4 linked regions of the Homo sapiens genome follow. The protein of the gene in region 4 purifies or fractionates together with the protein of the main gene of each other region. This does not show direct contact. Each region holds a gene or a part of one and is shown on either strand. Other genes may lie near its edges.

What was found. Proteins that work in one complex are often made in the same cells at the same time.
Region 1: the proteins of LMO7 (region 4) and RAB3IP purify together in Homo sapiens (affinity purification with mass spectrometry, with the first as the bait; one large-scale study listed by BioGRID). This does not show direct contact.
Region 2: the proteins of LMO7 (region 4) and PIP purify together in Homo sapiens (co-immunoprecipitation; one large-scale study listed by IntAct). This does not show direct contact.
Region 3: the proteins of LMO7 (region 4) and ALB purify together in Homo sapiens (affinity purification with mass spectrometry, with the first as the bait; one large-scale study listed by BioGRID). This does not show direct contact.

What each region holds. Positions count from the first base shown.
Region 1 is NC_000012.12:69,755,860-69,759,399, forward strand, and holds part of RAB3IP (rab-3A-interacting protein isoform alpha 1), read left to right. Parts: intron 1-545; coding exon 546-804; intron 805-3,540. UniProt on the Homo sapiens protein: Guanine nucleotide exchange factor (GEF) which may activate RAB8A and RAB8B. Promotes the exchange of GDP to GTP, converting inactive GDP-bound Rab proteins into their active GTP-bound form.
Region 2 is NC_000007.14:143,135,077-143,137,697, reverse strand, and holds part of PIP (prolactin-inducible protein precursor), read right to left. Parts: intron 2,505-2,621; coding exon 2,399-2,504; intron 1-2,398.
Region 3 is NC_000004.12:73,414,287-73,417,826, reverse strand, and holds part of ALB (albumin preproprotein), read right to left. Parts: intron 2,793-3,540; coding exon 2,660-2,792; intron 1,572-2,659; coding exon 1,474-1,571; intron 297-1,473; coding exon 158-296; intron 1-157. UniProt on the Homo sapiens protein: Binds water, Ca(2+), Na(+), K(+), fatty acids, hormones, bilirubin and drugs. Its main function is the regulation of the colloidal osmotic pressure of blood. Major zinc transporter in plasma, typically binds about 80% of all plasma zinc.
Region 4 is NC_000013.11:75,800,330-75,803,829, forward strand, and holds part of LMO7 (LIM domain only protein 7), read left to right. Parts: intron 1-354; coding exon 355-553; intron 554-3,500.

The DNA.
Region 1 (3,540 bases), on a different chromosome or scaffold from region 4:
TTGCAAGCCATGCAGTCTCTGTTGCAACTATTCAACTCTGCCTTTAGAGTTTGAAAGCAGCCATAGACAGTATGTAAATGAATGAGAGTGGTTGTGTTCCAATAAAACTTCATATATGGATGCAGAATTTTGAATTTCATTTAATTTTCATGTGTCACAAAATATTCTTTTAAAGATTTCTTTTCAACTATTTGAAATTGTAAAAACTATACTTGGCTCATTGATACCTTATAAAAACGGGTGGAAGGCTTGGTTTAGCCTGTAGGCTATAGTTTGTTAACCCCTGCTCTTGAGTAGCACTGTCCTGTAGAACTTTCTGTGTTGATGAAAATGTTCTATTTCTGTGCTATCTAATATGAATGATAGGTATTAACCACATGTAGCTATTGAGCACTTGAAATGTGGCTGATATGACTGAGGACATACTATTTATTTAAATATAGAAGCTACCAAATTGGGTAGTACAGTTCTAGAGCTGTGTGTTTAAGCCAGTTCTATTGGAGCATATGCTGATATTTTCTGAAAAATGTCTCTCTCCTTTACAGCTTTCATGTTACAGACCCAGCCCCTTGCTCTACCTCTGGAGTCACAGCTGGATTAACTAAATTAACTACAAGAAAGGACAACTATAATGCAGAGAGAGAGTTTTTACAGGGTGCTACTATAACAGAGGCTTGCGATGGCAGTGATGATATTTTTGGGTTGAGTACTGATAGTCTGTCTCGTTTACGAAGCCCATCTGTTTTGGAAGTTAGAGAAAAGGGCTATGAACGATTAAAAGAAGAACTCGCAAAAGCTCAGAGGGTAAGAAAGAAGATATTTTATTCTTCCATATATTATATTAGAAATTAGTATTTCTCCATGGGGTGGGGCAACCTGCAGAAATGAAATCATGATGGTTGTACATTTATCCGTCACATATGCCCAGCCTCAGCTCCTGTTAGGCAGCATTTAGGAATCCGTGAAACTGGTTGGGTAGTAAAGAAGTTCCTCTAAGACTACTAACTGGAAAAATGTGGCTCTGTTAACTCTTCTGTGCCCCACTGCATTGCCTGCTCCCTGTCTCGTATTATCTGTAATGCAGATTGAGTGGGCTATATTCCACATGCAGGGTTTTTCCTTCTTACTACATGGCTGACTAAATGGTTATTTACTTGAAGTCACTCAGTCTAAGTCATTTTGTTTTGAGTTTAAGCTGAGTTTGAATATTTTCTGTATCTTACCTTGGAGAATTTTCTTGGTAAATTGTTGTGTTTCCCATTTGGTCATTTTAAAAGTTTCTGCTATTTATTTCCAAACTTGTGGCCATATCTTATTCTTTTTCTGAGTCTGCAGTTAAATTTCAGAGGAAAATTTATAGAATGAAATGCATACATCAGAAAACAGGAAAAGTCTCAAATGGACAATCTAAGCTCCCACTTTAAGAATCTGTAAAAAGAAGAGCAAAATAAAACCAGAGCAAGTAGAAGGAAGGAAATAATAAAGAGCAAAAATCAATGAAATTGATAACAGAAAAAATAGAGAAAATGAGTGAGACAAAATGTTGGTTCTTTAAGAAGATTAATAAAATTGCAAACCTCTAGCAAGACTGACAAAAAGAAGACAGATTTATCAGTAGCAGGAGTGAAATGCAGGATGTCACTGGAGACTCATATCAAAAGTATAATGGAATGATATGAAAAACTGCATATATAAACCTGACAACCTAGGTGAAATACCAATTCACATGTAGAAAATTGAGAAGGTAGGGCAAACATTTATAGGTGTAATATCCAACCTACCATGACATTTCACAAATGTATTCCCACTCTTTCCCTAGCATACTTGTCTCTCATGAGCGTAGTATATTCATTTTTTTAATCCCCAGTTCCTTCCCAAAGGAAAAGGATGTGGTGAGATGTGGTTGCATTTTGTTTCTGTCATCTGGCTCAGACTTTGTTGTCTTAATAGATAGTATTTTATTAAAATCACACATTATATAGAGGTAAAATTTTGAGTATATGTATCCATCTTTGAGAACACATGGTTATTGATCAGAACAGATTGCTAATTTCTTAGCTCACTTGAGAATTTCCTTTGAAATCTCTAATATGCTGTATTTAGAGATACTGTTTGGATAATTGAAATGGTGATGTGTAAACACATATGTGGTGACTTTTATGAAGAGTATAAGTTAGTATTAATATTTACTTAGATCTCAAGGCTTGAAAAGGACTCTTGAATATAAAAATACTTCCTGAATTGTGACAACTTGTGAATCAAACTATGTCAACAGCCATTTTCTTTAGTCTTATCTTAAGAGAGGCCATTTTCTATACTTTTTACTTACTTGGTTAACTGTGTCTTCCTATTTAATACGAGTTTCTTATAGATAGTGTACAGTTAGGTCTTGTTCTTTTGATCCTTTGTAATTATCTCTGTCTTTTAATTGGTGTTTAGACCATTTACATTTAATGGATAATGGTATAGTTTGGTTTAAATTTACCATCTTACTGTTTGTTTTCTGTTTGTCTCATTTGTTCCTTTTTCCCTTTTGTATCCTTTCTTTTGAATTAATTCTGTATTTTTAAAACAATTTCATCTTCCTGTGGCTTTTATCTTTGTTGCTTTAGCGTTTATAGTAGACATATTTAACTTATCACTCTCTACCTTCCGGTGATATATTACTTTACATCTGGTGTACAAACCTTACAAAAGTATACTTTTATTTTTCCCCTCCTAGTTTTTGTGCAATAATTGTTGTATGTTTCACTTCTTTGTGTGTTTAAACCCCACAAAACACTATTGTTTTGCATTAAACAGTATTATCTTTTAAAGAGACTTAAATAATAACAAAGAATCTTTACATAGATAAACATCAGAAATGTTAGCTACATGGGCATCTGTGTGTTCATTCCTTTTTTTTTTTTTTTTTTTTTTTTTACAAGTTTTACTTTTATTTTTGAATGATAGTTTAACGGGGCATACAATTCTAGGTTGATGGTTGTTTTTTTTTTTCTCAACAAACACTTTCATAATTTTACGTCTTTGTCTTCCGGCATCTATCATTGTTGATGAGAAGCCAGCTGTCAATGTAGTTGTCATTCCTTTGTAGATAATTGGTTTTCTTCCTCCTTCTGGTCACTTCTAAGATTTTTTTTTTTTAATTGATCATTCTTGGGTGTTTCTCGCAGAGGGGGATTTGGCAGGGTCATAGGACAATAGTGGAGGGAAGGTCAGCAGATAAACAAGTGAACAAAGGTCTCTGGTTTTCCTAGGCAGAGGACCCTGCGGCCTTCCGCAGTGTTTGTGTCCCTGGGTACTTGAGATTAGGGAGTGGTGATGACTCTTAACGAGCGTGCTGCCTTCAAGCATCTGTTTAACAAAGCACATCTTGCACCGCCCTTAATCCATTTAACCCTGAGTGGACACAGCACATGTTTCAGAGAGCACAGGGTTGGGGGTAAGGTCATAGATCAACAGCATCCCAAGGCAGAAGAATTTTTCTTAGTACAGAACAAAATGAAGTCTCCTATGTCTACTTCTTTCTACACAGACACA
Region 2 (2,621 bases), on a different chromosome or scaffold from region 4:
GAACTCCTGACCTCAGGTGATCTGCCCACTTTGGCCTCCCAAAGTGCTGGGATTACAGGCACAAGCCACTGTGCCCGGCCTTGTTTACCTTTCTGTTACATTAGCAACAACATATCGTCATGAATCAGAATTTACACCACTTGTACAATAAAAGATCAGAATCCGTTGCATGCCTAGCATGGCACGTGGGACGTGTTGCCAAAGACCAGTGCAGTTTAATGTACTTCTTCAAGCTAAGTAACAACATCCATCACACAGATAATGTGTTCATAGAATAAAATTCAACTCTTCTATATTTTAAATGTATTGCTTTCCCAGCTAATGTGTGCATAAAGAAACACATACCTTACTGCATCACAAATTTATTTTTTACAAGTTAGTCACTGTTACTCAATGTGGTAGTTTCTCTCTGTAATCCAATGCACTTTATACATTTAGAAGCAATTTTCTGATAAATGTTTCATAAACTTCATGAAACCAACGAAATGGCCTGTAGCACAAAAATGTTTAAGCATTGTTTTTGCCACAAGTTTCCTTCAGCTTTAAAGGATTATGCAATCTTTATATTCAAATATACGATTGTAGGTATATTCTATTCTAATTCTAAAATAAATAAATATGAGTCTAAACCTCACTTTTTCAAAAATTCAGTTACAGAAAACATTATAAATGATAAAAAATGAGGATTAGATGGTAAGAATTTTATAGTTATATAAATATATTTTAATAAAAATTTAAAAATAGTTATACTTTGAAAAATGAAGCCACAAATAAAAATTTGTTGACTAGAATTAACAAAATTTCCTTTCCTGTAAATTATTTCTAGTTTGCAAAGTCAGTTAGTCTAAAGATTTCTTATTCTTTTAGTTGTGCTTAGGTGGGTTTTGAAAAGATTGCTTTATTTTAGAGTACTAGCATGATTCTTAAAAGCATACTTTTATTAATCACAAAAGCACAAAATTATGTCACATGTAATTTTATTGATTCAAACATATCTTATTATACCTACCACTACCATTAACTATTACCACCAGAAACCACCATTTTCACAAAAATTTTATGTACACATTATGTACATGTTCTTATTCTCATTCTCACCTGTGTTTGTGATAAACAAAATACAGAGTTGAAAAATTATGATTCAGCCTTGCTCCTACCCCAAATTAGTGTACATGTCTCAGATTCTTGGACTGAAAATAGAAAAATTTGACAAAGCAGCTGTGATATTCTTTGCTCATTGACCAGGAATTTTTCTTTACAGGTGTGGGGATATTTCTAGAATGCAGTTGACTGAATAGCAATCTTCATGTTCTCAATGTTGTTTTACATGTAATCATTGTCCTTAAGTCTCATTTGAATTAGGAAACTTATGTTGTAAGGAAATACTTGTGCTGCCTGATAGAAGGTGTCCTTCATGAAGGGTCTGGGGAGGGAGTAGGGGAGATGGGAGATGCATGGGTCTTGGCCCTAGAACAAAGGTAGTGGGGGCAGTTTGCATGCTTGTGACATCTGAGATCAATGACTAGGAAAAGGACACACAACCAGTGTCCCAGGGAAGAGTCACTGTGGATTAATAACTGCATAAGTCTATTTGACTTCTGGCCCTTGGCAGCTAGACAGGAGGGATAATGCTCTAATCCCAAGCTGCTCAAAAATGTGATCCTTTGGGCACAGCCTTGGTGTACCTTGGGCGTCTGTTAAAATCCAGAAGTTCTAATCTCTCCCCAGACCTGCTGAATGAAACTCTGAATTTTAACAAGATCCCCGAGTGAGTTTTAGACACATTACCATTTGAAAACCTCTGACCTTGTTCAGAGATTGGACTTCTGAACGTGGGGAAAAGGAGGAGATGATTACGAGCTCCTTGTCAGGGTGGGGAGGCTGGAACAAGAGTCCACTTCTGGTGACCCAGAGCAAAGGAGCAGAAGAAGGCAAGAGGACAGTAGAGTCGCTCAGTGCTTACTGGAGAGGAGGAGTCATATCCTGCATGTCCTCTTCTGCCCACCCACCTCAACCTATGGTGTGGAGTTGCTGCTTTCTCTTCTGAGAACTCCCCTCCCTCCATCCTAAACTAAACATGCTCAGGACCTTGGAAGGACTCTAACTGCTTCTCTACTAGCTCTTACACTTTTTTCTTTTTCCCTCTTTCTCACTTCCTATTCCTTCTTCCTTTCCTTCTTATTTATCCTAGACTTCTCTGGATTCGAACTTCTTCATCTGGAAAATGAGAAGTCATCTGTCCCAAGCTCCCACAGTTGTTCTGAGTCTCAAGTAGCATAACATAAGTGAGAATGTTTCATTAAGTACACTGTACATTATTAAAGTGAGAGATTAAATTATGTTTATAATCAAGGAGTTGAATTATCTTTTGAAGTCACGCCCCCAGTCCTCTACTTACCACCATGCATTCTTTCAATTCTGTTTGAACTGCAAGCACTGCAGTGACTTCGTCATTTGGACGTACTGACTTGGGAATGTCAAAATTCTTTATTATGATCTTCCGACTGATTGTGGGAAGAGAGAATCAGAACACCAGGATCAGAGACCAATCTTTGAGTGAGGGGGGAGCCATGAACAGGGCAAGGGGCACAGGATGGGCAAGGGAGGGAAATTATGGGGCT
Region 3 (3,540 bases), on a different chromosome or scaffold from region 4:
CCAATATCACACATACACACACGTGCATGCACACACACATGCACACAAACATGCACACACACACATTACTTCCTTCTGCTTATGAAAGCTAGCATTATCAATATCTAAAGGTAAAATTTTTTCATTATTAATTTATTATATTTTTTTAAAGACTCACATAGTCTTCTGCACAGGGCATTCTTTTTGCTTCAGGATGTTTACAACATTTGCTGCCCACTTTTCCTAGGTTTCTTGAGACCTCTACAAGAGTTGGAGTTGACACTTGGGGTACTTTCTTGGTGTAACGAACTAATAGCCTGAAAAAAAGAAGTCATGTGTTTTCAGCAAGGCAAGAAACTGTCTAACATAGTAGATAAAACAGAGAACACTTGGCCGGAATCAACTAAGATGTTGCTATGTTCCATTCATCATATTATCTCCATCTGCAGAGTAGTGGGTTAGTGGAGGGTAGAAAACATTCTCCTGAACAACTAGTTAAACTTGGCTTTGAGTTCCACCTGTACCACTTGCATAATCTTGGGAAAGTGAGTTGCCTAATTCAGTGACATTAATAAATTTATTAATTTCTTCTTTCAATAAAACCTGGAGAGAGCTTCATATGTATCAGCATATGCTAAACTTGAAAGATACAAGTAGAAAATGGAAGGAAATATATCTGACTCAATAGGGATAGTTCAAGGGTTAAATTAAAAGTAGTAAAGTATTATAATTAATCTGACATGGTACCTAATATATAATAATCATGTATTAAGAATGCCAGTCACCATTAAAAGTCAATGTATGACTTTAATCTACTCGAGGAAAGAAACTATGTCTTGTTCACTGTTATTATCTCTAAAATCCATAATCAGAAGAGCACCATGTGTATGAGCCACACAATAAATATCTACTGTATAATATGTCTCTTCTTGTTTTTAACCTTCATAGATAAGACTCTATTGAATTGGGACATTAGTCCAGCAAGCCATTCTGTCTCTGTCTCTTCTATGGAGGGAAAGGTTTAACCATCAAAGACTAGGTGCATCTCCCAAACAACCTGAATTTAATATTCAAATATGTATCTAAATTCATTTGTTACATTTTTGTGTTCAGCTTACATATTACTTTTTGAGCGACATCTATTCAAGGCCTACTACTTGCTGCTCTACAAAATATTGCCATGCTCTATTTGCCCATTAACTATTTCTTAACCTTCAAGGGACATGCTCAGTTCTGATATACCAAGATTTGGTATTTACCCTCCCAGCCTACATACTTCCAATCTTAAGAGAACAATTTTTAGACTACATTCAAATATAGACCTCTCCACCCCATCAACTATTTTATCTCTCCTCTCCTATCTTTCTTGACAAAGAGTGATTAGAAATATGCAATGTATTTTCATTCTTAAAAGTTCTATGCTAGGTGGCTCATATATTAAGTCTTAAATAATTACAAATTGATAAAAAAAATCAGTCAATAAAAATTACTTACGCATTCTGGAATTTGTACTCTCCAAGCTGCTCAAAAAGCTCACAATTTTGTTTGATTAAATTCTGAGGCTCTTCCACAAGAGGTTTAAATTCATCGAACTGAAACATAAAAGAATTGTGTTAATAGTATTATGCCTCAGGATCAGATGCAGGTTGTTTTTCACCCCTCTGGTCAGAATGATATCCTTTCTTCTTCCTACTCAAAGCCACATGAATAGATGAATATCAATGCCGCTCTGTCACAATACATTCGAACTATTTATTTGGTGAGCTTGCATCATGTAAGTGGTTAAGAATATTCAGGCTCTGGAGTTCAATGACCAGTATTTGAGCCAAGTCATGTAACTCATTCTTCAGTTGTGCAATTTTACTTACCATCTCCACATTTCAGAATCCTTATCCCTAAAATAGGGGCAAAGATGGCACTCATCTCATAGAGCTGCTCTGTAAACCAGGTAAGCTAATGAAATTAAACAGTGCCTTGCATATAATAAAAGTTTAATAAATGATGGCTATGATTGTACATATTATTATTATTAGTTCACCTTTCCAGTTAGATTCCAGGCTCTCCAAAATGAGAGATTTTACGTTGGTCATTGTTTGTGCATGGTGCCTGGCATACAGTAGCTTCTTGAAAGCAGGAAAAATGAGTTTTCTCTGATTCTGAATAGTTCAGAAACCATTACATATGCTAGTGGGAACCCTAAAAATCCTCCAGAACAGATTTCCTCTCCTAACTTAATTTCTTGTAAAACTATTCCTAAACATCCTCAAAAAGATTTGAAAATATTCTAAAGGGATAGGTTCTATAATTTGCCATAAGATACTAATTCTAGTACTTGATTAATCCTGGAATCAGGTTAACTCACTTTACATCTAAGTTAAATATCTTCTAATTAACATTTAAATTTAATTTTTTTTTGTTCTCAGGATTGTGAAAAAGAGAAAAAAAGATCAAAATTTTTTAGAGATTGCTCTATTCAGATCTTTCTATTCTAACTAGTCTAAATTTTGTTAATCATTCTAAGGCTACTTTTTCTTTCATGTTTAAGATTCCAGAATTGAAACCATCTCAAGAAAAGATCTAAATTGCACTGTATATCATTTTACATTCTTGCATTATTTTTCTTTCTCATTATTGGAATCATCAGTCAAAGAACTACATTTTTTTCCAACAATAAACCTACCACTTTGGCATAGCATTCATGAGGATCTGCAGCGGCACAGCACTTCTCTAGAGTGGTTTCATATGTCTTGGCAAGTCTCAGCAGCAGCACGACAGAGTAATCAGGATGCCTTCTTGCATATTCATACAAAAACCTAATTAAGATGAAAATAAAATAGACTTTGTTGGACAAATGAGCACAAAAAATATCACAAAGCTAATCTCAAAAGTAACTCATATTCCAAAAGTCTTAATTTGACTAAACCCCATGCAGTAAAGCTTAGTAGCTAAGGACTTGGGGTCCAGAGTTAAAGTTACCAAGGCTCAATTCCTAGCTCTGCTACTTATATCACTGCATCACCTTAGGCAACTTATTTAAATGATCAGAGCCTTAGTCTCCTTCTCGGTAGAATGGAAATAATAATAGTATCTGTCGGCTGGGCACAGTGGCTCATGCCTGTAATCCCAGCACTTTAGGAGGCTGAGGCAGGCATATCACCAGAGGTCAGGAGTTTGAGACCAGTCTGACCAACATGGTGAAACCCCATCTCTACTAAAAATACAAAATTAGCCAGGCATGGTGGTGCATGCCTGTAATCCCAGGAGGCTGAGGCAGGAGAATCGCTTGAACCTGGGAGGCGGAGGTTGTGGTGAGCCGAGATGGCACCATTGCACTCCAGCCTGGGCAACAAGAGTAAAACTCTGTCTCAAAAAATAAATAGTATCTGTCTCGGAAGGTGGATTATGAGAACTATATGACATAATCTACACAAAGCACACACTGCTTGGCACATATGAAGTCTTTGATGAATGATACTTGTTATTTTTATTAACATTTTGTTTGATTTAAACTACATCTCAAAAGGATTCTGATAAATAGATGGGCAGAGATATGTTCTTAAA
Region 4 (3,500 bases):
ACTGTAATAACTGAGTTTAGCATTTCAATGTTACTCTATGAACTTTCATTAAACTAGTAATTTTCCTTATTTTTAAATAGAACATATGTACTAGTTTATTAAATAATATTGAATATCTCCTTATTATTACTTTGAATATTGAATACCCCCTTATTGTATCAGTTGTGGGCAAACAATTACAAATTTATTTTCTGTTTTTCATCAGCTTTTTGCTGTGTCCGACAGAGAAACCTCATGCCTTACATGTCAAATAAAACCCAACTTAAATTAGGCAAACAAGCAAGTAATAACCGATTGATTATATTTTTTGGAAGTTTATTTAACTTACTATTCTTTAAAAAACGTTTTCTTTAGGCACTCGAAGACTCCAGCTTCCTGAAAAGAAGTGGCAGGGACAGTGGCTACGGTGACATCTGGTGTCCTGAACGTGGAGAATTTCTTGCTCCTCCAAGGCACCATAAGAGAGAAGATTCCTTTGAAAGCTTGGACTCTTTGGGCTCGAGGTCATTGACAAGCTGCTCCTCTGATATCACGTTGAGAGGGGGGCGTGAAGGTGTGTTGTGTTTTGGCTGTCAGTTTATTTGTTCACATATTAAGGGAGAACTGGGAACAGGAGAGAATAGAAAAATGGAGCAAAAACTAGGCAAAAATTTCACTTAGAAGTGGATTTTCATAGAGACTGGAGTATAATTGGGGGTTTTGTTATTTTTTTCTCCTTCATGATGGTGATAGTTTCATTTTTGAAAAATTTCATTTCTGGAAAGGACTGAGAGGTGACAGTTAATTGTGGCCTGTTTTATCAGTGATAATCTATCCTGGCTCTTCTCTCTCCAGATTCAGGCTTAATTTGTGTTCAAGAGTTCTATAAACTGATATATCTAAACATAGAAAGGAATATAAGATTCTGCAAAAAAAAAAAAAAATCTTCTAGTTTCTGAGTAACTTTCATCCTTGGCTTTTTTCAAAAGATTAAAAAAACTCTCTTAAGCAAAAAAAGAAAAATATTTTTACAATTATTTCTATAGATGAGAAGAAATGATTGCTATCTATCATGATAGAATATTATGTTAAACTTTGTAGATTGAGTAATATACCACCACCTAACATGCAGGTAGAAATCCTCTTTTGGTCCTTTCAGAGTCAGAGCTAACCCAGGACAGAGCAAGTGTGAAAGGAACATGTTAGAGACATTCTGTTGCGGGAAGGAACCTTCTTTCAAAATCCCAAGCTTATGGTCAGTTCAGTTATTTCAATGCACATCTTATTCCTGTGGCTACTGGGTATAGCGTCAGCAATTTCTGAGTGTACATCTCCAGCTATTCAGATTTGACTAGATTGAAACCACAAGTGAAGTTTTTTTTTTGAAATATTTCTGTGCTTCTATCGACATCAATGTGAAAACATTGAGTTCTGGCTGTGATTTGTGCTTAATTGTTAGGGATTTTACATTGCTTGTGTATTTGGAATATTACTTTTCTATTTCTAGATATTTTTCCTAGCATATCTATGACAAAAATGTCAAAAATCAGCAAACTTAAAATAATTGTACAGCGAACACACATGTATTCGCTGCCTAATTCCACCATGATGTTTTACTATGCATGCTTTATCTTATACTCATCTCTCTCTCCTCTCTCTCTCTTTCTCTTTCTCCCTCCCTCCTTTCTCTATTATAATTTAGTCATCTTATTTTTTGAGGCATTTCAGAATATATCACACTTGTCCTAAATACTTCAGTATGAACATCATTAACTAGAATTTATTCTTTGTTTTACTTCTGATGTGAAACTTATATAAATACAACATGCTATGAATTTGTTTTCCAAAAAACCAATCAACAATTTATTAAGCATGGTAACAAAAAACCTGAAGGCTTTATCTTTTAGAGTAGTAGTTTTTAAAAATAAAAAATGTGAAACGCTATTTCAGCATTAACCTTTATAATTACTGCCACACGTATTGGCTGTTTGCTGTCAAGGTGTGACATTTTCATAGCCCAGATGACGATTCCAATACGTTTAAGGAAATGAATCTGAGTATGTGATTCATCTGAGTGGTTAAAGCTGTAAAAGCAGAGGCTGAAATTCTGAACCCGCTGTATTTCTTTTCCCTTACTGAAGAACCTACTCCATGTAATGACAGAATTTATATCTAGTCAAGGAATAAAAGGGGAAGGGATAGAGGGCATGTGGGAATATGCAGGCTTCAGTCAGTTCAGATGCAGTGGCCCACCCAGCGGTGTGGAATCTAAGTCGTCTTCTCAGATCCTTGTTGGAATGGGCACCTGTCCATGTAACCAAAAGCAGAAGGCCACTGTCACATCCCTTTCTGATCTTGGAAATGGGGCTGCAGACCTTGTTTAAAGAGTGCGTAAGTGAAGTCTTGGAAATTACAACTAAGCGGGGAAAAAAAGCCTGGGATGGAGGCACCAGGCCGATAAAGCTCTTTTGTGATCAGTGTGTTAAAATTCTACTGCTACTCTCTAGATTGTAGTCCTAAATTGATGAGCACTATAATGTAGGGTAATATTTTTAGGATAACAGAATTGCAATGTCACATTCTCTAGTTTTACGTGAAAACTCATATCAAGAATGATACTTTGGGGGAAAAAATTCTCTGCAGGACACCGTACTGGGCTAAAAAATACTTTTTCTTAAAAGTTAGAAAGTAAAATAGTCTCTTTATGACTTTAAAATTCCACATGTATGGATTTCGGCAGGAGTAATTGATATACTTATTGGAAATGAGAAATAAATGTCTGATTTTTTAGAAGGTGGTAAAAAGAAAGCACCAGTTTATTGACTACTACTCCTCATGGTCACAGCTGCGTTTACTTTCCCTCTTTTGCCAAGACTCTACTCTCCTTTTACTCTGTCCCTGTCTCATAGCTGTATGTTAAGCGACTTCCTGTAGACTGTTCTCAGTGTTATTTACTGTAGCTTCCTGCCAGGCAGGAGGGAGGGGAAGAGACTGCATTTAACTCAGGTTAACCCTGCAGGTGCTCTACCTGCTGAGAGCTTGTAGCTGTCAGGCACTGTGCACAGCCAGGCCTGGAGAGAACCCTGGTGAGAAGCAAGTAACATTTCCAAACCTTTACAAGTGCACAGGAGGCAGGAAGAGAAGGGTGTGAAAGAGGGACAGCTTGGCTTGGATCTGTAGTGTTGTTCTCCCCCCTTTTCTTCCTTTGTCTTTAAAAGAGTAGATTCATTCTTCTTCTTTTAAGAAAGCAGATTACTATTTGTATCTATCTGACCTTGAGGAGTATCAAAGGGTGTTCTTTTGAATTTGTGTTTAAATGATTTTGAATCATAATACAGCGTTCCCAATATAATTTCCATGGCCACTCTGAAGAAACTGTGAGTTCTGTGCTCTCATTTGGGCATAAGACTTCAGATTCCTTTGGAACTTTAGAAGTCATCCAGTCCAGCCTCATATCTAATGTGTGATTCTGGTTTATAGAATCTATCCAGACCCTTTACAAGCTTGTTTTTTTTTTTCTT